Linked DNA regions of Homo sapiens. The protein of the gene in region 3 interacts with the protein of the main gene of each other region in a pairwise test. Each region holds a gene or a part of one and is shown on either strand. Other genes may lie near its edges.

Region 1 (4,125 bases), on a different chromosome or scaffold from region 3:
CGCCCACCACCACGCCTGGCTAATTTTTTGTATTTTTCAGTAGAGACACGGTTTCACCGTGTTAGCCAGGATGGTCTCAATCTCCTGACCTTGTGATCCGCCCGCCTCGGCCTCCCAAAGTGCTGGGATTATAGGCGTGAGCCACCGTGCCCGGCCTTTTTTTTTTTTTTTTTTTTGAGACGGAGTCTCGCTCTGTCACCCAGGCTGGAGTGCAGTGGCGCAATCTCAGCTCACTGCTACCTCCAACTCCTGGGTTCAAGCGGTTCTCCTGCCTCAGCCTCCACAGTAGCTGGGATTACAGGTGTGTGCCACCACGCCCAGCTAATTTTTGTATTTTTGGTAGAGACAGGATTTCACCATGTTGGTCAGGCTGGTCTGGAACTCCTGACCTCAGGAGATCCACCTACCTGGGCCTCCCAAAGTGCTGGGATTATAGGCGTGAGCCACCGTGCCCGGCTAAAATAAGCTATTTTCTAAAGCAACCCGACCTGGGTTTTAAAATGCAGCAAAATATGAGATGGGAGGAAGGGGGCTTAGTGCCCAAAGCAGAGCCTTAACAAGCTTCATGTCTGTGGAAGAGATCATTGTCCTATAGGGTGGTGTGTGCTCCAGCCTGACCCAGAAGTGGACTGCATGTAAGAGCCTTGACCCAGAGCATCCATGGACATCTGTTGAGCAGTCCACTAGGAGAGGGAAGCTAAGAGGTTATGCTGAAGGGGACACTGGCTATGGTTATGCTGAAGGGGAAACTGGTTTTTTCCCTGGTTTCAAAATAACAAAGGACTGTCATGGTGGCTCATGCTTGTAATCCCAGCACTTTGGGAGGCTAAGACAGGAGGATCATTTGAGCCCAGGAGTTTGAGACCAGCCTGGGCAACATAGTTTTTTAGTTTTGCTAAGATTCTATCTCTACAAAAAGTTTTTAAAAAAATTTTAAATGAGAACAAAAGATAACATGCAGTGCTTCCATAAAATTTCTATTGGTAATAGTTTTTTTTTTTTTTTTTTTTACTATTTATTCTATAAATGTATTTTTAATCATTTTTAGTCTGTCATCACTTTCAGAGCATTGACAACTCTTAAACTTTTTTTTAGGTGATCGAAGTATGTGATTTGACTAAAGTAAAGTTAAAATATTGGTAAGTTTTCTCCCCTGCTGGTATATGTCACACTTGGTATAGACAGGCCATATCTACTATCTTCATAAGTTAGTAAAGATTCACATCTGTCACAGATGTGAATTATAGCCTGGTGCCATGAATTCCTGAGGCAACCTTCAAGCCTGCTCAGTTTCCTGGAGAAGAGAAGTAAACCTCATTAAGAATATGTGATGTGTTTAACACTTCATGTATATGTCATCTAACTTAATCCACTTGACAAAGCCAGACCTCAGCTCAGAGGTGATGTGACAGTCTCCTGGGTCATAGCTGCCCTCCCGCTGACAGCCTCTCTTGGCACCTCTTTTCATGTTTTCATGAGTAACAGAGGTGGGACAAACCAGATAGGTCTGACTCCAAAGCCTATGCTGAAGAGAATGCCAAAGAGACCACCATTTTAGAGCTATAATGTATTTTTTAGAATTACAGCGGGGATGACATGCACAGTCCAAAGTTGTTGCGCCCCCATTATGGCAAGGCAGCATGCCTGCATCTAAAAATCTAGAATACTCCTTCCTTTCTTTCTTTCTTTCTTTTTTTTTTTTGAGACGGAGTCTCTCTCTGTCACCCAGGCTGGTGTGCAGTGGCGCCATCTCAGCTCACTGTAACCTCCACCTCCTGGGTTCAAGCGATAGAATACTCCTTTCAGTAAGTCTCCTTAACTGGCTTCCCTTTCCCTTTTTGAGGGTGTGAAGAGGACCTGATTCCTGGGGCAGGCTCAGGCAGTTTTGCTGATAGAGGAGTAGACAAGCAAATGTGTGGTACCACTGGCCCCTGCAGGTTCTAGTTGTCTTTTAGTTTTACTGGGGCCTTCATACCTCAGGGTCTGGTGGCTTCTCTTCTCTACCCTTTTCTTAAGAGTCACTGGTGTCATAAAGCCCCAGAGGATCAACTCTGTATATCAGCCTCATGAGAACTGACCTTCTCCTGACCTCATTAATGCTCTTATTTAAAAGTTCTCTAATTAAGCTTTGTATTTTGATATAATTAGAGACTCACCTGCCTGTGTCTTAAAAATAACTCTCCCAGCTACTATCTCACATGATCTGTGGGCCCATCTTGTGAAGCCTAGTATTAAAAAATATTTTTGTTTTTCAGTGGCGTGCATTTTAATTCTCAGGCCATAGCTCCTACCATTGAACAGATTGACCAGTCTTTTGGCGCAACCCATCCTGGAGGTAAGCCAAGTCCATCTGATTCCTCTGGTCATCAGTGGCAGTTCATAGCAATAAACCTGCCCGGTAGTGCCATCCCACCCCACTTCCTGGAGTCAGGCTCCCATAGGATTGTGGGGTTGGTACTTGGGTGTGAAGGAAACATCCTCCCCCTTGTTTTCAACCTAGTAGGCCAGTTTAGAAACAAGCCACAGGGAAGGTGTTGTCAGTCATTACTCCCTGCCAGGCTGGTTTATGTTAGCCATTTCAGATGCCAGTCAACCATGTTATTTTCTTCTCCCCCACCCCCAACAGTGTACAACTCCGCTGAGCAGCTCTTCCATCTCAACTTCAGAGGACTGTCTTTCTCTTTTCAGTTAGACTCATGGACTGAGGCTCCAAAGTATGAGGTTAGCCCTTCCTGTCCCCTGGTGTTTGTTGTATGTGTCTGTGGTATGGCTCAGCAGATGGTGTCATGGGATGGGAATAGAGGAGTGGGTATTAGATAGGCAGACTTTCTTTGGTTTCCATGTATTTGAGCTCTACAGGGTAAAGTGGTAGAGTGGGTGGGTTGACAGAGGAAGAACAATGCTCAGGCTGGCATTCCGAGGAAGAGGATACTTCCCACAATGGAGTGAGGTCAGGCTCACTTTTCAGAGATAAGTTCATTCATTCCTTATTTTCAAGCTCCTAATCAACAGTTTTCCTGGTGGCCTAGAATTTGGAGATTTCATCCTCTGGATTTTCAGTTACCTTTGTTTTTGCAAACATTTCATTCATCCTAGGGGCTGTGAAAATGATAAGCTTTCATAAGACTTATTTTAATTAAGGAAGCATTTCTGCATTTTCCCCTATGAAGAAAAGGAAAACTGACCGGGCATGGTGGCTCATGCTTCTAATCCCAGCACTTTGGGAGGCCAAGGCGGGCGGATGACTTGAGGTCAGGAGTTCGAGACCACGTTGGCCAACATGGTGAAACCCTGTCTCTACCAAAAATATTAAAAAAAAAAAAAAAAAAAAACAGGCCGGGCGCAGTGGCTCACGCTTGTAATCCCAGCACTTTGGGAGGCCGAGGCGGGCCTCCTGGCTAACATGGTGAAACCCCGTCTCTATTAAAAATACAAAAAATTTAGCTGGGTGTGGTGGCGGGTGCCTGTAGTCCCAGCTACTTGGGAGGCTGAGGCAGGAGAATGGCGTGAACCCGGGAGGCGGAGCTTGCAGTGAGCCGAGATCATGCCACTGCACTCTAGCCTGGGCGACAGAGCGAGACTCCGTCTCAAAAAAAAAAAAAAAATTAGCTGGTTGTGGTGGTGCACACTTGTAGTCCCAGCTACTCAGGAAGCTGAGGCAGGAGAATCACTTGAACCTGGGAGGTGGAGGTTGCAGTGAGCTGAGATCATGCCACTGTACTCCAACCTGGGTGACAGAGTGAGACTCCGTCTCAAAAAAAAAGAAAAAAAAAGAAAAGGAAAACCAAGCAGAATTAAAGGTGGACTTACATGGTTTTGGGGAGTTTACTGACCCAGAGCCAGAGAGCCAGGTTTAAGGGTGTACTTTGACCCTTTGACCTGAGCAGCTCTTGAAGACCATGAGTGACAGGGAAGACCAGAGCCTGAGTCCCATCACCTGTTGTGCCCTAAGTAAAACTCTTGACCTTTGTTTGCAGCCCAATTTTGCCCATGGCCTGGCTTCTCTCCAGATACCCCATGGAGCAACTGTAAAACGAATGTACATCTACAGTGGCAACAGCCTGCAGGATACCAAGTAAGTATAAGGAGCATGAGTTTCTTGCTAAGGCCTGGGCTGCCTGGGAG
Region 2 (4,287 bases), on a different chromosome or scaffold from region 3:
TTAAACTACACAAATGCTCAAAGTCCAGCGATACCCTGCACCCAAATTCAGTGGCTAGATTACCTTCTTAGGAAAGCACAACACTTCAATGGAGTGACACTGGCATGAGTCCACTAGAGGGTGTGTATACATGGCCTGAGTTCAAATTGTTCCTGCTGTGAGTACTGCTTTTCAGCTTCAAGTTATTCTTATCGGCCACAGTACTGTTTATTCCACTTAGTAACAGTTCTGTTTACAGAGCACTTTAACATAAATTCTGATTTTTAACATGAAAGCTGTCTGATGTTGGTATTTTTATTTTAATCTTTAGAGATCAAGAAATTTTTTTAGTGACAGAATAGGGACTTTATTGATCCTTAAATCCGCCCCTCACCACAATAAAGGAAAAAAGCAAAAACATCCTTGACTCATGTATTGAAGGGTCTTTTTTGAGAAGGGTCAGTTTTTGAAAAATTATCCAAAACTGAAACATCTGTCATCTGTATCACATCTAAAGATTAACAGTGACTGATGACCACCAGTTACTTCATATGAAAGTGGGAAACCGTATCAGTTATTTGTCCACTAAGTTGGTAGGTGCTTTTTGTACAAAAGCCCAGGAGAATATGATCTGTAAATTCTAGTTGAGTGATGAAGATGGGGCTTTGAATTAATCTACAGTCTTGGAATTAATTCTGCAGCATTTTAACCAGGGAATTTTTCAGTAGTCATAAATCTATATTTTAATACTGAGTAAATGTCCTCATTTACCCCCACCAATTTTGTAAAGCAGATATTAACCAAACTTCAATAGTTATAAGACAAAAATTTAATGAAAATTGGACAGTATGTATAATCCAGGGCTAAATAGTTACATTGGACTGGAGTAGAAATTTAAAATACAATAGATGCTGGAGTAAATGTTACATATTATCATCATCTGATTCATCTTCTTCCTTCAGAGATTCCTGTTAAGAGAAAACAGGTGTTTAAAATTGATTTTTAAAATTGTTATATCCCACACCTGTGGGCAAGTTAAGCTACAACAACCTGAATTAAGTGGTTAAATTCCTCTACTTGTAACTGAATGAACAGTTTCAGAATAAGATACCCAAGCAAAGTTAATTAAGCAAATGTTGCTCTAACATGCAATGACTGTATCTTTGATAGAATATATACTTAAGAGGCCTGGTGCAGTGTTCATGCCTGTAATCCCAGCACTTTACGGGGGCCAAAGTAGGCAGATCACGTGAGTTCAAGAGTTTGAAACTAGCCTGGTGAAAACCCGTCTCTGTATTATTGGTGAAGCCAAAAATACAAAAGTAGCCAGGTATGGTGGCATGTTCCTGTAATCCCAGCTACTTGGGAGGCGGAGGCAGGAGGATCGCTTGAACCCTGGAGGCAGAGGTTGCAGTGAGCAGAGATGGTGCCACTGCCCTCCAGCCTGGGTGACAGAGCAAGACTCCGTCTCAAAAAAAAAAAAAAAAAAAAGAACAAATATTTAAAGTATTAAAAGTCCTAAAAAACTCTTTGCAGTCTAAACCTCCCAAGTTTTTTTTTTTTGGAACCAAGGCAACTTTACCCACTAGAGATAACCTAGAAAATTTCTATCTTTAGTTCAACTGAACTCTCAGTGTTATTTCATAGAAACCACCCCAGTCTATTTATATTATTCAACACATAATTTTGGTTAGAGAATTTTTTTTTTTTTAAATTAGGGATGGGGGTCTTGCTGTGCTGCTCAGGCTGGTCTCAAACTCCTGGGCTAAGTGATTCCCTGACTGTACCTGGCCAAGAGAAGTTTTTGTGCTGTGGCTTACCTTAGCATATTTCTCTGCTTCTTCTCTTATATCTTTTGGAACAATTTCATGTCTTCCATTAGTTACTGTAAATTAAGCCACATGTGTAAATGAATTTTAAATTGAGTACCATATTGTAACTTGCAGTATACCATAGGATCTACCCAATCCACATATCTGACTCACCTAAGGTTGCAAAGTTGTACTATGAGTAATACTCGAATATTTTTGTGTGCTGCTTCTACATGAGATTATATGTGCCTACATATTAAGTTCTTATGGAAATGAAAGTAAATTATGCTATTTATAAATCCTGAGCATTAATTTATAGCATAGTATCTTAAAACCATGAAATGGATGTTTCAAAAAATAACGTGTTCACAACTTAAGTCAATTATTAAGCAGAACTTTCCCTTCATTAGACAACCTAGTAAATTTGCTTTAGCTTTCATTATATTAGAAAGGACACTCAGTTGTAAATTAGCTGTGGTACAGATCATTCCTAAGGCAAATAAATGTACAAAAATAACTTACATTCACCAACCCAGCTGAGTTCTAGTTCAAAAGCTTTATCCTTAACTTCGTCATGTACTATGTAAATTCTAGAATAGAAAAGGGAAAGGTAAGATTTTGGTAACCTCCAAACATTGAAGTAGTTCACAGACCCAAAGTCAGTACAAATTAGAATGTCCATCCATAATAAAAGTATCTATAAAATTACACAGACACATTCTACATAGTATTTAACATTAGAGAAGACAAATTACACAGGGACTGAAATAAAATGAAACATCTACTCTCCCGACAAATGTTGAATATACCTAATCAACCCAAGTTCAGTTTATTTTTGCACATTGCTTTAGAGATATAACTTGGCTGGGCACAGTGGCTCACACCTGTAATCCCAACACTTTGGGAGACCAAGGCGGATGGATCACTTGAGGTCAGTTCGAGACTAGCCTGGCCAACATGGTGAAACCCTGTCTCTACTAAGAAACAAAAATCAGCCAGGTGTGGTGGTGGGCGCCTGTAATCTCAGCTACTCAGGAGGCTAAGGCAGGAGAATTCCTTGAACCCGGGAGGCAGGGGTTGCAGTGAGCCAAGATCACACTACTGCACTCCATCCTGGGCTACAGTAGAGCGAGACTCCATCTCAGAAAAAAAAAAAGATACAACTATAAAAGATACCTCATAAAGAACACGGATTCACTAGGAAGAGGCGTCATTAACTGTGCCCTTTTAGAATATTTTGTCCATTAACTTAAATATATTTAAAACCAACTAATTGGCTGGACATGGTGGCTCGTGCCTGTAATCCTAGCACTTTGGGGAGGCAGAGGCGGGTGGATCATGAGGTCAGGAGTTCGAGACCATCCTGGCCAACATGGTGAACCCACGTCTCTACTAAAAATACAAAAATTAGCCAGGTGAGGTGGCCATAGGCCTGTAGTCCCAACTACTCGGGAAACTGAGGCAGGAGACTTGCTTGAACCCAGGAGGTAGGGGCTGCAGTGAGCTGAGATCACGACACTGCACTCCAGCCTGGGCAACAGAGTGAGACTCTGTTTCAAAAAAATAAAAAAAAAAAAACTAATTTATGTGCTTGCAATTATTAGTGGTCTCTTCAACCTATAGCTTCTTGGCAGTAGTCTTTTTAAGCTCCTTGTCCATTTTATAATGGCATATATGCCACATAACCTGGCCTTCACATTGTAGTACCTTACAAATTACAGCAAAGAAGGAGGCACTGTCATGCAACATATTAAAGTAACATAAAAAGTATCAAGAGGCCAGGTGCGGTGGTTCACATCTGTAATCCCAGCACTTTGGGAGGCCAAGGTGGGTGGATCACAAGGTCAGGAGTTCAAGACCAGCCTGGCCAAGATGGTAAAGCCTGTCTCTACTAAAAATACAAAAATTAGCCAGGTGTGGTGGTGGGCGCCTGTAATCCCAGCTACTTGAGAGGCTGATGCAGGAGAATTGCTTGAACACGGGAGGCGGAGGTTGCAGTGAGCCAAGATCGTGCCACTGCCCTCCAGTCTGGACGACAGAGTGAGACTCCATCTCAAAAAAAAAAAAGTATCAAATTAAGTACAGTAGCAGAGTATAGCTTTATCTAATACTATGCACTGAGTTACATACCTTACTTTTTGGAGGGTCTTCTAAAACCTTGCTATAATATGAGAGGATCTTGATTTTCTACAACTAAGTAAAAGATAACATGCTGCTCCATTTTCTTAAATGATGAAGGGATGGCTTTCCTAACATGGAACACTTAACAGATGACTACCATTATACCTAAATATAAAAGATGGTAAGAACTGATTTCCAGAAGGACTTCAAAGGATTGGTTCGGTGAAGGAAACAGAGTATATCATGATAACATACTATACAATTCAAGGAAGATATCTGACTTCCTTTCTTAGCAGCTCTGCTGCATGTTGGTTCCTAGTGTTGCCATTATTAACTGACAATCATAGAATGGCTTCTGCTTGCTTCACAACTGAAA
Region 3 (4,868 bases):
TTTCAGCATGCAGCTCCTGCTGGCTGATTACAAGCCCCTGGCCACACCCCGGGAGAGAGAGTTCCAGGTGCCAGCCTGTCCAAGTGATGGATGGTCCCTAGGCTGTGGTGGCCCAGAGGTCCTGGCAAAAGGGCCCTGTAGCCTCTAGTAAAGTATGAGAGGAGCATCGGCCACAGCAGGGGTGTACAGGCCATGGCGAGGACCGTCGGCCACAGCAGGGGGGTACAGGGGAGCACAGGCCATGGAGAGGACCGTCAGACACAGCAGGGGGGCACAGGGGAGCACAGGCCATGGTGAGGACTGTCGGCCACAGCAGGGGAGCACAGGCCATGGAGAGGACCGTCGGCCACAGCAGGGGAGTATAGGGGAGCACAGGCCATGGAGAGGACCGTCAGACACAGCAGGGGGGTACAGGGGAGCACAGGCCATGGAGAGGACCGTCGGCCACAGCAGGGGAGTATAGGGGAGCACAGGCCATGGTGAGGACTGTCGGCCACAGCAGGGGGGCACAGGGGAGCACAGGCCATGGTGAGGACTGTCGGCCACAGCAGGGGGGTACAGGGGAGCACAGGCCATGGAGAGGACCGTCGGACACAGCAGGGGGGCACAGGGGAGCACAGGCCATGGAGAGGACTGTCGGACACAGCAGGGCGGGTACAGGCCATGGCAAGGACCGTCGGCCACAGCAGGGGGAACACAGCAGCACAGGCCATGGCACATGGGCACGGCGGGGCTGGGCCTCCTGCTGGAACTCCACTTGGGCTTCAGGCCACGAGAGTGGATTTCTGGGTCTCATGCGGTGCAGGTGTCCGCCTTTGCAGCAACACAGCATCGCTGCTGCCTGAGGTGCCCGCACTTACCACCCCCCGGCCCCATCTTGGGGAGAGACTATGTAACGTGGCCCAGGTCAAGATCACAGTTCAGGTTCCCTCCCCTCCCGACCACTGTCATTAGGGATCCTGAGTCCCAGAGCCTTCCAAGGGGCTTGTCCATCTGTCTGTCTCTCGTGGGTAAGTGGGCCCGGGATGCTTGCTGTGTGGGGGCCTCTGCCAGGACCTGGATCCCTGCTGCTGTCCACCCAGGGGCTGTCCAGGAAGCAGAGACATGGGAGGTATATGCCCACGGCTGTCTGTAGGTCTGGTGGCCAGCGTGTGAGGGTCTGTGTCTCCTTGCGTGGAGAGGACAGCACTGGGATGTGAACAGGCCGGGCGTCCCCTGAAAGAGACAGCCGGAACTGGGTGGGGGTGGGCGTGATGATGGGGGTGATGGTGGGGGTGGTGGGGGGGGTGGGCGTGATGATGGGGGTGGGGGTGGGGGTGGGGGTGATGGTGGGCGTGATGGTGGGGGTGGGGGTGATGGGGGTGGGCGTGATGGTGGATGTGATGGGGGTGGGCATGATGATGGGCGTGATGATGGGGGTGGTGGTGGGGGTGATGGTGGGGGTGGTGGTGGGGGTGGGGGGGGGTGGGCCTGATGGGGGTGTGGGCATGATGATGATGGGCGTGATGATGATGGGGGGTGATGATGGGCATGATGATGGGGGTGATGGTGCCCAGGCCCTTCAGCACCGCAATATGCTGCGGAAGTTCTTCCGGAAGTTGTCATCTAGAAAGGCGTAGAGGAAGGGGTTCAGGCACGAGTTGGCGTAGCTGAGGCTGGTGATGACGTAGGACATACTGATGACCAGTGGGGTCTGGGGCAGGTCCGTGGTCAGGGCCACGACAGAGGCCAGGTGGAAGGGCGTCCAGCAGAGGAGGCACACGGCCAGCACGACGAGGACCAGGACGGTCACCTTCCGCCTGGCCTTGCCTAGAGCCTTGGCTCCAGAGCGGAGCCGCACGGCCCGCAGCCTGCGCAGGAGGTCTGTGTAGAGCACACAGATGGTGCACACGGGCAGCACGAAGCCCAGGACCAACGTGTAGACACGGCTGGCCTTGAACCAGACCTGCTCGGGCCACGGGAAGCTCAGCCCACAGCTTGGGACCTGCAGCTCGTTGCTGTAGACGCCAGCGAAAGAGAAGAAGGGCAGAACCAGGACCGTGACGCCCAGCCAGACACACAGGCTGGCGACCTTCGCCCCCCGGTAGGTGCGCCAGGGCATGTGGCGGGACCTCACGGTGGCCAGCACCACCAGGTATCGGTCCACGCTCATCACGGCTAGGAAGTAGATGCTGGAGAAGATGTTGTAGTGGTCGACGGCCAGCACCAGCTTGCAGAGCAGCTCCCCGAAGGGCCAGTACTGCAGCAGGTGCTCCGCGATGTTGACGGGCAGTACCAGCGTGAAGAGCCCGTCGGCGACGGCCAGGTTCAGGATGAACACGTTGGTCACCGTCTTCATCTTGGGCGCCCTTAGGATTACAAGGATGACGGCCGTGTTGCCAGTCAGCCCCACAGCACAGATCCCGGAGTACACGGCGGGCAGGAGCACATAGAGGAACGGCAGTGGCTCGGAGAAGGTGGCATTGTGGCCAGTGCCATTGTCCTGAGAGACGTTGGCACCCATCGTGGGGAGGGAGAAGGAGCCCCTGCTGTCAAGGGGCTCTGGGTGCCCAGCGGCCTGCATTGTAGCTGGGACCGTTGACGATTTGCGCCCTGGGCAGGTGGGAGGTGCCTTGGAGTTGGGTATCTGGTTGGGGGCCTCCTTGGGCTGGATTCTAGGAAAGAAAAACAACCAGAGACTTTGAGATCCGGCCGTCTGTTAGGGCACAGCCACTCCAGGTTCTCTGGCAGAGACTGCGGCCACTTTGCCAGGTCAAGGACATGGGGCCAGAGGGAGCCTGGTGGGGTGTGTGGGGGCCTCCTCCCGCCTCTTCCTGGTGAGACTTCAGCAGATCAGTTCCCTCCTCCCGCAGAGAGCAGCTGCTGGCCACCCTCCTGGGAAGAGATGTGGATCCGTCCCTGCCCCAGCAACCCGCAGATGCACGGGCTGCGTAGAATCAAGCGGTCCCTTTGGAAACACACCTCCCAAGCTCATCTCTGGCTCCCTTGAATCTGAAGGTCCTTCCCTCAGGGGTCTTGGAGTCTGCACCCTCCCTCACACCCTCCCGAGAGATGCTGCAGACCCTGCTGGTCCAGCTACTCTTCTCTCCACTGACCTGTCCAGTGCTTCGAGTCCAGAAGTTGGTAGCCTTGGTGTGTTCCTGGTTTTGGCCAGTACAGGCAGTCGCAGGGATGGAGGGCGAGGTGTGGTCCTCACTGACAGACCTCCAGCTGAGGTTTCAGGAGTTTCAAGACCTGCCCTGCTGGCTGCCTCAGCCCCGGCTGCGAGGTTCCCAGCCTGGTGTCAGTGCTGATGCTGGTGAGGGAGGGAGGCGGATCCCCCTTGCTGACGTGGAGCCCGGAAGGCAGGCCCCACCTTCCCCTGAGCTGCAGTAGCGCCTGCAGTCGGCTGTCCCAGGGTCTCCTCAGCATTCACTTACCCAGGCAGACTCCTCAGTGGGCGGCTGAGGCACGTGTGCGCCTGTGTGTCAGGAAGGGACTCCATGCAGGGGCCTCTGGGTGTGCCCAGGTCTTCGGGCAGAGGGCACTGAAGGCATCTGTGCCTCTGTCCGGGAGTCACTGTGGGCCTGGGCACCCTTATCTGTGAACATGGGTGTCTTGGTGGGTCTCCTGCCCCACCCTGTGTGTGTACATGGTGTGTTCCTGTGTGTGTGTGCCAGTTAGGACATGTACGTGTGTGGGCCTGTGTCTGCCTGTATGGGGGTCTCTGTGGGTGAGCTCTGCGTTGTATCTGAGTGGGTCTACATGTCCTTGGCTGAGTGTGGGCATCTGGGGGGTCTGTATGCCCTCATGTGGAAGCAGAACTTGTTGGCCATAGGCAACCCACCTTCTTTTTTTGTCTTTTGCTAAAAGAGGAACTCAGCCTAGGCAAGCTGTGAAAGGCTGCAGAGAAGACGTTCTCACGCTGACACGTAACTCTCCCGCCGTCCTGCAGAGGTGGTGAGCATCACACTCTGCTCTGGGTTGGTCTTTAAGTCCTTCCCTTCTCCCTGCTTTTCTTCCTTGCTGGACGCACCCTGGCTTATCCAACCCGTGTGTGTGCAGCTCGGCCGCATCTGGACCTGCTTTGCAGGCAACGCCACAGCTGACACGAGCAGTCGCCAGTCTCAGAGCCGCTCCTCAGCGGAGACGTGTTGGGTCAGAGGGTCTGTGTTTTCTTTCCTTTCTTCTTTTTTGAGACAGGGTCTTGCCCTGTCACCCAGGCTGGGGTGCAGTGGCACTATCATGGCTCACTGCAGCCCTGACCTCCCTGGGCTCAGGTGATCCTCCCACCTCAGCCTCTCAAGTAGCTGGGACTACAGGCATGTGCCACCATGCCTGGCTAATTTTTGTGTTTTTTTTTGTAGAGACGGGGTTTCACCATGTTGCCCAGGCTGGTCTCGATCTCCTGAGCTTCAGCCTCTACCTCAGCCTCCCAAAGTGCTCAGGTTATAGCCATGACCCACCGTGCCTGGTCACTGTGTGTTTTCAGTCTGGGGAGATGTGTCTGCCCATCGAGACTGTGCCCGCTGCCTGTGGGGTTGCAAGGATGTCACCGCACACTCATGGTCGGCCTTCTTTCCTGAGAGTTGCTCTGTCAAGTCTATTGGTTAGGACAGGAGCCTGGGCAGTCGCCCTGAGTACCCTGATGTCGCCAGCCTGAGGGTACACTGTGGGTGGGCCCCGAGCTACCCTTCTATGGGCTGTGCCATGTGGATGTTGAGTCCGGGGTCAGGGAACCCTGCTGAGATATCTCACACTCCTCTTCAGCCAGTTTGGGGATGGCGGTGGGGGGGATCTGTGGGTGTGTCTCGAGGGAGCGTGGGGCTTGTAGCCACAGTTTGTCACATAAGTGGAGCTTGACGCCCACAAGGTCAGGGGATGGTGAT
Region 4 (2,651 bases), on a different chromosome or scaffold from region 3:
AACTCCTGACCTCAAATGATCCACCTGTCTCAGCTTCCCAAAGTGGTGGGATTACAGGAAAATGGGGAAAATTTTAACACATCATGCATTCATTCTGAGGCTCATTTGAGATGATGTACGTTAAAAACTTGGCACAGTGATTGCTCTATGCTAAACGGCTAATAAATGCTACTTAATTATGGTTATTTAGATTATAAATTATTTATGTAGAGTTGTGATATGAACTACATAGAACAAGTTTGACAGTAAATGATTTTCATACGCAAATAATCAACCCATAAATGATGCACGGTTTTCTGCTCTGTTCATGCTCGGTTTTCTATTCTATTGAAGCAGTGATAACATGGGTTACGTTGAGACATTGTTAGGTTAACATAAATTGGGAAGAAAGCTAAAAAGATAAATACTGGATACTAATGAAAAGAAAATCAGGATGGTAATTCCAGATTGAAAAAGTGTATTAGGAAAACAGAAAATAAGTTCCTGCATGAAAATCAAAAAGCAAGATCTATAACAGCATCATCTTGATGAGAGACCACAGGAGTTCATAGGATGAATTTTACATTATTTTAATTTTCATGCATTAAATGCAGAAAAGGAAGTTGAAAATACTAGATCCAGAGGGTACTGGGGGTGGGAGGGTCAGTCTTCAGATAAATCACATCAGAAACTTTTAATATAAGATAATCTTCATCCAGCCCCGAGCTCAGAGCATACGGGGTTCAGAATTGGTGAATCCCGATGTCACAGGATAGAGGATGAGTCTCCCACGGTGTCCTCAATAGTAGTAGCCAGAGCCGCATCCATAGCCACAGCCACAGAAGAAGCGGGAGCCGTAGCCATGACCATAGCCACAGCAGGAGCTATAGCCACAGCGCAGGCTTCCATAGCCATAGCCTAGGCCTTCGTATCCACAGCACCCATAGCCATGGTCGCCGTAGTAGTTTCCGTAGTAGCTGCCGCACATCGTGATGGTTGTGGAGGTTGTCCTTGGGTAGGAAGGAGTGTAGGTGACTTCAGTATGGATACTTCCTGTAGAAGTCCTTTTATATGCCTCAGGATGGGAATGATCCAGCAGAGGTAGCATACCACTGGCTAATTTTTTGACTAATATAATTAGTTTGTTTTTTCTCAATTGTAAGATAATGCTGCAGAGGTATTAAGGAGGCTTGTTTTGTTTGGCCTTGCAATTTGGGCTCCCCTTATCTGATTGAGGGCTCTGATGAAAGGAGACCTCACACACTCACACTCATATAATCCTGCCTCAAACTAGACTTTCTATAGCCATCCTTTACATCAAGAAAGACTTTTGTTAGTTACACTCTTATTTGCTCTAGGCCCCAATTAATTGTACTCTTTTGCACAACATTCAGCAAACAATAACTTTGCCCTTTTAGTATTTCTGCTCTCTTTATCCAAATAATACTTTTTTCAGGGATTTAGTGTCTTTTCTATACTAAAGCCATGATGTTGATAATAATTCAACTAATTAAAAATTCTAGAAAACCAGATCTGAGAAAAATTTGTTGTATTTTTCTACTTATACCAGTGAGTCTAATTTTCCTTTATGTTCAACCTCTACGGAAGAACAAGAAAATGTAAGTTATTTTCTTGATTTATAAAAGAATTAATAAGTGACCAAGTCAATGAAATGGAACAATAGTTTTATATTCTCTTTTAACTTCTTATCTTAAAATAATCTCAGGCATAGAGATAGTTGTCAAAATAGTATAGAAAATTTCCATATATCCATCATTCAACATCCCTAATATTAATATCTTTCATAACCATAATCCACTTATCACACCAAAGAAATTAACTGTGTACAGTATTCTTAACTAAACTGCAGACTTTATTTTACCATTTTTCTGTTATTATTAACTTATTTTATTTTAAGTTCTAGGACCATGGTTCATTGTAGCACTATTCACATATTTATTTTAATGTTCTTTTTTTCTGTTCTTGGATCCAATTCACATTGCATTTGGTTTTTATACTTCTTAGTCACCTCCAATTGCTCATGGTTCATTCGTCTTTTCTTGGCTTTTATGACCTTACAATTTTAGAGAGCCAGATATTTTGTGGAATATTCCCCAATTGAATCTGTCTAAGGTTTCCTCATATGTAGATTGAGGTTATACATTTGGGAAGAGATGTAACTCTTGTCTTGTGCCATCTCAGGGAGTCATGATGCCAATAAATCTTTGAGTAATTCTGGAATTGTTTTAAAATTCAGATTTTTAATAGAAGTCCTTTTCTTACTATATACCCAGAATCAACGAAGTCAAAAATCAAAGTCTTTGCCACGGTTTAGAATCATATATAAAATGATAGCTACATGTGAAGTATAAACCAAAGAGAATGATATTGCTCCACAAAAAGTGATGAAACACCTTATCACTCAACATTTTACAAGTGAATGCTGCCACCATGACTTCTCTTACACGCTTATCATCCTTCCTTATCACTTTGGAGCTACACTCTTATTCCCAAGTCTGCATATATGTATTTAGGCTGAAGGATATTATTGGGTGAAAGTAGGATTTTTAAAAAATGGAAGCCATCACGTCCATAACCCCAGGCTTTGGGAGGCCGAGGCGGGCGGATCTTGAGGTCAGGAGATCAAGACCATCCTGGCCAACATGGCGAAA
Region 5 (3,536 bases), on a different chromosome or scaffold from region 3:
GCTACATGAGAGGGTTCCTCACATAAGGCAAAAGAAAACACACCTGTCTTAGAGGCCTCAAAAATGCCCACAAATACTTTCCAAGGACAAAGGTGGTTACTCAGCTGCAAACAGTGAAGCACACAAGGAAACGACACCATGAGCGAGAACTGGTGGAAATGACAGAAAGCTGAAATGGACCCACAGAGACTTCAGGCATTGGGATGACCGTGCACAGATATTTGAAATAAGAGATCAGCTCTAAAATGTCTTCCAGGAATGAGAAATATTTATTTTATTTAATAAGAGAGGGCTGGTGAGAAGATGATGAGTGGGGGTCAGACAGGCAGAGGAAGGAGAGAGGGGGAGGAGCTGAGCCCAGGGAGAGGCCGGGCCGGGTGGGTGTGGGGGATTCACAGAGAAGCACCCCCGGGGCCTGGAGACGCTGAGGCTGGCAGGAGAACCCCACAACAGCAGACCCCGCACAGCGGGAAGTCAGGACTGCCTCCGCCCCTGGTGCTGTCAGCCTGGATGCAGCTCAAGGCCAGAGTCCCGAAGCTCCCACCCCACGCGGCACGTTGAAGTTCTTCCCACAGGGTTTGCCAGATATGCAAAAAAGACCTCTGAGAGGGCACATTGGTGACTTTATTTGTTGACAGACTGATCACTCACATGGGGCAGGACACAGTGACCACCGGCTGGCCAGCATGGAGATGAGGGTGTGGGAGAGATGCATGCCTGGAGGGAATCGGCATGAAAGCTCAGCATTGCTGGCTGGAGGTGCAGTGGCTATGGGCAGAGGAGACTCAGACAGGGCTCAGGGCTGCAAGGATTTTCGGAAGTCAGAGATGGCCCTGGAACAACTCTGGAGAAACGGGACCTGCCCGTCAGCAGCTGGACTTCTGGCCTGAGGAGAGGCCGCAGCACGCGGAAGAGAGGCGGGAGCACGTGGGGCGGCAGAGGAGGGACACGCAGGAGGCCGGGCGGCAGCAGCTGGGCTGGCAGGTGGAGGCAGGGGCACAGCAGGAGGGGATGGGCACACAGCAGGTGGACCTGCACACGGGGCGGCAGAGGAGGGACACGGAGGAGGAGGGTCTGCAGCAGGAGGTGGTGCAGCAAGCCGGCTGGCGGCTAGACTGCTGGCAGCATGAAGAGGAAGCCCCAGAGCAGACGGGCACACAGCAGATGGGCTTGCAGCAGACAGGCTTGCAGCAGACGGGCACACAGCAGACTGGCTTGCAGCAGACAGGCACGCAGCAGGCCTGCTGGCAGGGGGAGGATGTGCAGCAAGCTGGCTGGCAGCTAGACTGCTGGCAGCACGAGGGCGTGCAGGAGCTGGTGCAGCCTGACTGGCAGGGGCTGGGCTCACAGGCCGCCTGGCAGCAGGGGCTGGACACACAGCTCACTGGGGTGCAGACCAGGGTCAGGCAGGGGGCCGGGGCGCAGCAGCTGGTGGCGCAGCAGGGGGGCTCACAGCAGCTCTCTGGGCAGGCGTCCACCTGCCAGGAGTCAGAGTAAGCGCTGGAGCAGACGGACATGGTAGACGTGGCCATGCTGGGGTGGGGAGGAGGTGAGCTGGGGGAGACGTGAGTGAGTGAGTGTGGGAGTGAGTGAGGGAGTGAGTGAGTGATCGTGCCAGGCCTCTGAGTGGTCGGAACCTTTATACCCCTCTGTGTTGATTGTGCTGCCCCTGCCTGGCTTCGAGAAGCCTTCCTCTTCCTTGTTGTTGTTGTAGGCACTGTTGTGTTAGTAGTGTTGGTTCATTGTTTGTGGATGTTCTGGTTTGTGAGGCTCCTGACTGGAGTTAGGGCTTCCCTAATGTGGGCTTGTCCACAGAGATAAACTAGTAGAAATATATTGATTGCATCAAAGCACACTGCAGAAGCAGGGACAGTGGCAGTTAGGAGATATTCTGGAATTGACAGCCCTCTGCTCCATCCCAGGAGGAGTTTGCACTTAAAAAAAGACTTCTACACCTAAGGAGGGATGAGGTTAGGAGAACCTCAGTTTCTGGGCCTTGAGGAAAGGGAGAGATGTGTTCTGCTGTGGACAAGTTTGAAGATGCTCAGTTGGCCTGGCCACACGGCGAGATCCACCCTGTGGGTTGACACTGCTGGTTGTCAGTGGGAACCATGGGGCATATTTCTGCTGGGGGTGAGCCCTGGGGCAGGTGTGAGGGAATAGTGTCTTCCTGGGCAGAGATTGGCTCGCAGAGGGGAGCAGGGAGGCAGCTGCAGGCCCAGCACAGTAGGGATGGAGATGAGGGGCAAGCACCTTTGTTTCATTTCACGTTGAACTGTTATGGGGCCTTCCCCCGGTGGTGTGCACAATAGTGTTCACACCTTCTCCTCTCACATCTCGGGCAACATCACCTGCAATGGTGTCCTTGGGAGCTCCAAGGTCTCTTCCCTTATGGGCCAGAAAGTCATCAGAATGTATTAGTTCTACTGTTGGCTCCTGGACATTGTCATAGTAAATGTACAAATAAAAGGGTCTGATTGCAGAGCCTTGTCTCACAAATACCTATACACCTGTGTGTATCAGCCCATGCCTGTGCCCGGGACCATACCTGTGCGCTAGTAAGCCCCCAAAGTTCTGATCATGGATCCCTCATCTCCTCACTCTATGATCGCTATTTTCTACTAAATCTTTGAAATGGCAAAGGCAGAGGCTCTGATGATGCTCTAGGCTGCAGGGCTTTCCAAAATTAGGCCAGGGGTCCACTGAGTGCTTGGTGGGGGCCCATAGGCTGCAGGGTTTGAAGCCTCTGACCTTTGATGAGTATGGCTAAGGGCTCTGTTGGAGGACTACCTGGCAAAGTCAGACTACAGTGGAAAAATATTATTTCATAGAAATAATAGCTGGACACAGACTGGCAAATTGGATGAAGAGTCATGACCCGTCAGTGTGCTGTATTCAGGAGACCCATCTCACTTGCAAAGACACACATAGGCTCAAAATAAAGGAATGGAGGAAAATGTACCAAGCAAATGGAAAGCAACGTAAGCAGGGGTTGCAATCCTAGTCTCTGATAAAACAGACTTTAAGCCAACAAAGATCAAAAAAGACAAAGAAGGGCATTACATAATGATAAAGGGATCAATTCAATGAGAAGAGCTAATTATCCTAAATATATATGCACCAAATATAAAAGCACCCAGTTTCATAAAACAAGCTCTTAGAGACCTACAAAGAGACTTAGACTCCCACACAATAATAGTGGGAAACTTTAACACCCTGCTGTCAATATTAGACAGATCAATGTGACAGAAAATTAACAAGGATATTCAGAACTTGAACTCAGCTCTGGATCAAATGGACCTAATAGACATCTGCAGAACTCTCCACCCCAAATCAACAGAAGATACATTCTTCTCAGTGTCACATGGCACTTATTCTAAAATTGACTTTATAATTGAAAGTAAAACACTCCTCAGCAAATGCAAAAGAACTGAAATCATAACAAAGTCTACCGGACCACAGTGCAATCAAATTAGATCTCAAGATTAAGAAACTCACTCAAAACCACACAACTACATGGAAATTGAACAACCTGC
Region 6 (4,125 bases), on a different chromosome or scaffold from region 3:
GTGATCCTACCAGTGAATTACATGGAAACCTATGTATTTACATACACAAATTAATACAATAATTCCTTTGCTTTTCTTATTCCAAGCTATGGCTTTATCATCCCCCTTTCTTGGCTTTACTCTCCTTTTTAAGACCACAATGTATGTTCTGCCATACAGATAATATTCTCCTCAAAAAAGAGAGACAGGAGAAAAAACAGATCTACGGCAAACCTCCTACCACTACCAGTGATGCAGTTTGTCCCGTCTCAAGCCTATGAGCATATCCTTTCAGATCTGAAGCCACTTCCTTCTTCCTATCAAGGACAGTATTATCAAGTGTCTTTGTGAGAGGAGCAATCCTGTGCCCCTTCTTGCAGATTGTTTTGTTCTGCTCAAGAAGCCCTAGATTCCTCCTTTATTTTCCTTTCCTTATTTCATTTGCTGCAGCAGCCCAGAAACCCCAAAAGCAGGACCACCAGAAATGAGTGACCTTTATATCTCTCCACACTAACACATCTGAGGGAAACTGCCGACACCAAATATGTGTTCATGAGCTAATGAAGCAGAAATCCTCAAAGGAAGCACCATTTGCAACGGCTGAGGACAGAATTCTTTAGTGGACACCAAAAAGGCTGTGGAACTCCTATGCATTCTAACATCTCAGGTAACATTCTAATGGAGGAATAAGGAGGCTTACAACAAAGTCATACAACACAAACAGAAGTCCGAAAATGCTGGATTTCGCAAATTTCTTTTAAGACAAAACAAACAACTTTACTAACCTTATACCATAGCAGCTTTCTTCTCTGTACTAAGTGAGGCCAGCAAGTAGGAGGCATTTCCAAGGGGGAAAAATGACCACAGGATCTAGCCAAAGCAACCTGTCTCTAATACTCTCAAAAAACAAACAAACAAAAACAAACACTTTGATTTCCCAGATTCACTCTGCAGTGATTCTAAAACTTTCCTAATGTAAGAATCACCTGGCTATTTCTTGAACACACAAATTCCCAGATGACATTCCAGATGCACTGAATCAGAATCTCCATGAGAACACCTGAGCTATTCTTATCATAAGAGAGGTTAGGGAAACACTGCTTGATAAATGTTATTCTCCCACCAGTGCCCACCTGTGCAGGGAGGTATGAAACAAGTAGGGCTAAGATGCTTTACCTGAGCAATCACCCCAGACATGCTCCTCACTGGGTTTGACTCCTTTTATGGAGAGCTGGGTGTCAGCTCAGTAAAGTCTACAGACAAGCATCTCTTTGGGTCCCTATCACCTGCACAGGTCTCAGGACTCTGAGACAAATTTCTGAGTAGATGTCAATGAGGACAAGTCATGAGGAGATGGATTACAGCTGAATATAAGAAGATCTTTCTAAGAATTAGAGCTGGCCAAAGATGGAATAAACTGCTGTGGAGAGCTGTCTACCACAAGAGATGTTCAAGAAGAGAGAAAATATGGTACCTCTTGACTAGAATGTTGTAAACATCAGATCCAGCATGGGATGGACAGAAAGACTAGATGAATTTTAAAGTTCCCGCCAATGCATAAGTCAACAAAGAGGAAAATTTCAGCCACTCCTTAATTAATTAAAAGAGATAGCAAAAAAAGTCTGTGGGTGGGGTCAGCTTTCAACTGATCCTATCTCTTCAAAGGAAAAAAGAACATAGAAACACACTCCAACTCACCATCAGCCTCTCCTATAGAATGTTCTAAAGGTGGGAAAGCAGGAGTCACAGATGCTGTGACTAAGACCTGCCGCTCAGTTGACTCTGAATTTGGGGCACATGCCAGACAAGTTCTGTAGTACAGAGAAGAAATGTGTGTAGCACAGACCTGGCCCTCAAGGATCAAAATCATGTGGCAGAGACAACTCAACACCATGTGATTCTCTCAAATATTTATTCATCATATTTCACCTTTAGTTTTTGTCAGTAGGGTGTTCAGGGGACTCTCTTGGTTCAAAAAAAAAAAAGCAAATATACTTTACTAAATGTACATATTCTCTCAATCCAGTACAAGTTTGCAATATCCAACTCAATGAAAAAAATCTCAAAAAAAATTATCAAAATAAATATAAACTTAGTTAACTCTAATTTTAAAAATAGTATTCCAAAAATGACTAGTCCCCAAAATGATGAAATTACAATAAGGTGTGGCTATTCTGGACAAAATAACAGAAATTGCTGGCCTAGTAATACAGTAATACAGGAAGCAGTGGAAGCAAACTTGAATGAGAGGCAGGGGGTGGATGGCAGTGCCTTTGAAGTGAGATTCCAAAGTCAAAGTGACCTTTATAAATTGCAGAAGTGATCAGAAAAAGAAAGAAAGAAACCCCACACACAAAGAAATTCAAAATTACAAGTTTAAATGAAACATCTGGGGAAGGGAAAAATTTGGTTTTTCCCCAAATGTAAGGTAAGCATGACTCCTGCAAATACTATTTTTAAAATGTCTAGGAGTACCACAGTTGTCCAAAATAAGAAAGTGGCTAAAAATAATTGTTCGACTGAACAAGTATTTATTGTGTGCCTATTAGATACCAAGGCATCATGCCAGGTACAGGGGTAGGGTATGGGCATTAGAATAAACACATAAATGAAAATACACGATTCCTTCCTCATGTACGCATTAACAATAAGCACTTGAGGATGTTATAAGAGTTTTTGTGCACATAAGCGCATTTGTACACGAGATGGAAGCAATGTGGACAGTGAATGAGGCACTGGACACCAGAAGAAAGGAATTCTAGTCTCAACTCTAATTGGCTCTGTGACCATGAACAATGAACATCAGAAAATGGAGGACCAAAACAGTGGCTCTCCTACAAGGTCACCAAACCAATTAATAACAGACCTGGAGAAGAATTCTGGTCTTCTGGCTCCTAGTTCAGTGATCTGTCCAAAATACTACACATATGGTAGACTGACAAAGAAAGAAAAGAAGACCTTTTGGTTTCAAGTCATTTGCAGAGAAAGGGGGGGAAACAAAAACAGGAAAATCAGGAAAGGGTGGAAGGAAAATTAATAGTTCAAATTTAGGCATTCGAACTGAGACATCAAGAAAGGAAGCATGTAACTATGGACTGTGAACACAATATAAAGAAAATGATGTAAAATTTCTTATATCCTTATTCAAATCACGCCTTGCAGTTTTTTACTCTAAAATCATTGCAGACGTATATAGATAAAGGGTCAAAAAACAACATGTATGAATGACATTTAAGGAAAAAGAGATAACAGAAGAAAAGGGAAAAGGAGAGGTAGAGAATTTATTATATCATCTAAATATATGAAGCCCTTCTAAAGGGTCAATGCAGACATACTGCACCCAGATAAACAGAAGAAATGACATTATATTCTATATCTCTTACGTTAGCAATTTTAAAATTCTTGAGTCAGAAGTGTTAAACACTGGAATGACTAAGGTTACATTTGTTATGGAAATTTCTTAAATTTAGAAAGACCTCATACACACACCTGAAGGTAAAAAAAAAATGTACTTAATCAGTGGGTTGCAACCAAGTTACTTGTCAGAATCACCTGTAAACCTTGAAAAAATATGGATTCTCAAACTTACCTTATCAGAATCCCTGGGTGCTGAGTCCAAGATCCACCCCAACAGATTTTGATGTAGCCAGGACACAGAGTTTTTTTCTACCATAATGGGAGAGGTAGGGAGGAGGATCACTAGGAATGGCAACACAGAGTGGGAACTAGATCAATGCAAATTTTGTGGGCAAAATAGAATTTCTGTGGGTGTGATATTTTTAAAATGTATTGTAAGGCTGCTCTGAACCATCCAAGCATATCCCACTGAATTTAAACATTCTCTAAAGGTCCTGAAGTCAGCAACTACAATCCAGGTGAACCAAAAGTTGCTTCTCTATGTCATAGAAGCCTACAGGAGAGGCAGTAGGGTGGGAATGGAGCAGAGAGATCCCAAGAAGTTATGGGTAAATATTTTTTAAATCTAAACATTCAGAAAAATAAGAGAGACTAGGAATCACTCTCCTCCTCCTCTCCACCACACCAAAAAAAAAGGAATAATAAGAAAGTGAAAGGAAAAATAGTTTTAGGTTAAATTTCATCACCATCTGAAAGAAAATTACTCCGATTTTGTTTAAGCAAGAGAAG

The links.
Region 1: the proteins of NPBWR2 (region 3) and PHAF1 interact in binary tests that used the Homo sapiens proteins (3 or more experiments, as listed by UniProt).
Region 2: the proteins of NPBWR2 (region 3) and PSMA3 interact in binary tests that used the Homo sapiens proteins (3 or more experiments, as listed by UniProt).
Region 4: the proteins of NPBWR2 (region 3) and KRTAP6-2 interact in binary tests that used the Homo sapiens proteins (3 or more experiments, as listed by UniProt).
Region 5: the proteins of NPBWR2 (region 3) and KRTAP10-3 interact in a two-hybrid assay, tested with the Homo sapiens proteins (one large-scale study listed by BioGRID).
Region 6: the proteins of NPBWR2 (region 3) and NOTCH2NLA interact in binary tests that used the Homo sapiens proteins (3 or more experiments, as listed by UniProt).

What each region holds. Positions count from the first base shown.
Region 1 is NC_000016.10:67,130,191-67,134,315, forward strand, and holds part of PHAF1 (phagosome assembly factor 1), read left to right. Parts: intron 1-1,095; coding exon 1,096-1,139; intron 1,140-2,255; coding exon 2,256-2,335; coding exon of another isoform or gene 2,336-2,626; coding exon 2,627-2,721; intron 2,722-3,977; coding exon 3,978-4,075; intron 4,076-4,125. UniProt on the Homo sapiens protein: Plays a regulatory role in autophagic activity. In complex with BCAS3, associates with the autophagosome formation site during both non-selective and selective autophagy.
Region 2 is NC_000014.9:58,268,511-58,272,797, reverse strand, and holds the end of PSMA3 (proteasome subunit alpha type-3), read right to left. Parts: intron 2,381-4,287; coding exon 2,313-2,380; intron 1,865-2,312; coding exon 1,800-1,864; intron 948-1,799; coding exon 903-947; 3' UTR 794-902; downstream 1-793. UniProt on the Homo sapiens protein: Component of the 20S core proteasome complex involved in the proteolytic degradation of most intracellular proteins. This complex plays numerous essential roles within the cell by associating with different regulatory particles.
Region 3 is NC_000020.11:64,104,269-64,109,136, forward strand, and holds the start of NPBWR2 (neuropeptides B/W receptor type 2), read right to left. Parts: upstream 3,298-4,868; 5' UTR 3,096-3,297; intron 2,655-3,095; 5' UTR 2,564-2,654; coding exon 1,562-2,563; 3' UTR 1-1,561. UniProt on the Homo sapiens protein: Interacts specifically with a number of opioid ligands. Receptor for neuropeptides B and W, which may be involved in neuroendocrine system regulation, food intake and the organization of other signals.
Region 4 is NC_000021.9:30,597,908-30,600,558, forward strand, and holds KRTAP6-2 (keratin-associated protein 6-2), read right to left. Parts: upstream 996-2,651; 5' UTR 968-995; coding exon 779-967; 3' UTR 683-778; downstream 1-682. UniProt on the Homo sapiens protein: In the hair cortex, hair keratin intermediate filaments are embedded in an interfilamentous matrix, consisting of hair keratin-associated proteins (KRTAP), which are essential for the formation of a rigid and resistant hair shaft through their extensive disulfide bond cross-linking with abundant cysteine residues of hair keratins.
Region 5 is NC_000021.9:44,557,184-44,560,719, forward strand, and holds KRTAP10-3 (keratin-associated protein 10-3), read right to left. Parts: upstream 1,613-3,536; 5' UTR 1,533-1,612; coding exon 867-1,532; 3' UTR 607-866; downstream 1-606. UniProt on the Homo sapiens protein: In the hair cortex, hair keratin intermediate filaments are embedded in an interfilamentous matrix, consisting of hair keratin-associated proteins (KRTAP), which are essential for the formation of a rigid and resistant hair shaft through their extensive disulfide bond cross-linking with abundant cysteine residues of hair keratins.
Region 6 is NC_000001.11:146,222,158-146,226,282, forward strand, and holds part of NOTCH2NLA (notch homolog 2 N-terminal-like protein A), read right to left. Parts: intron 1-4,125.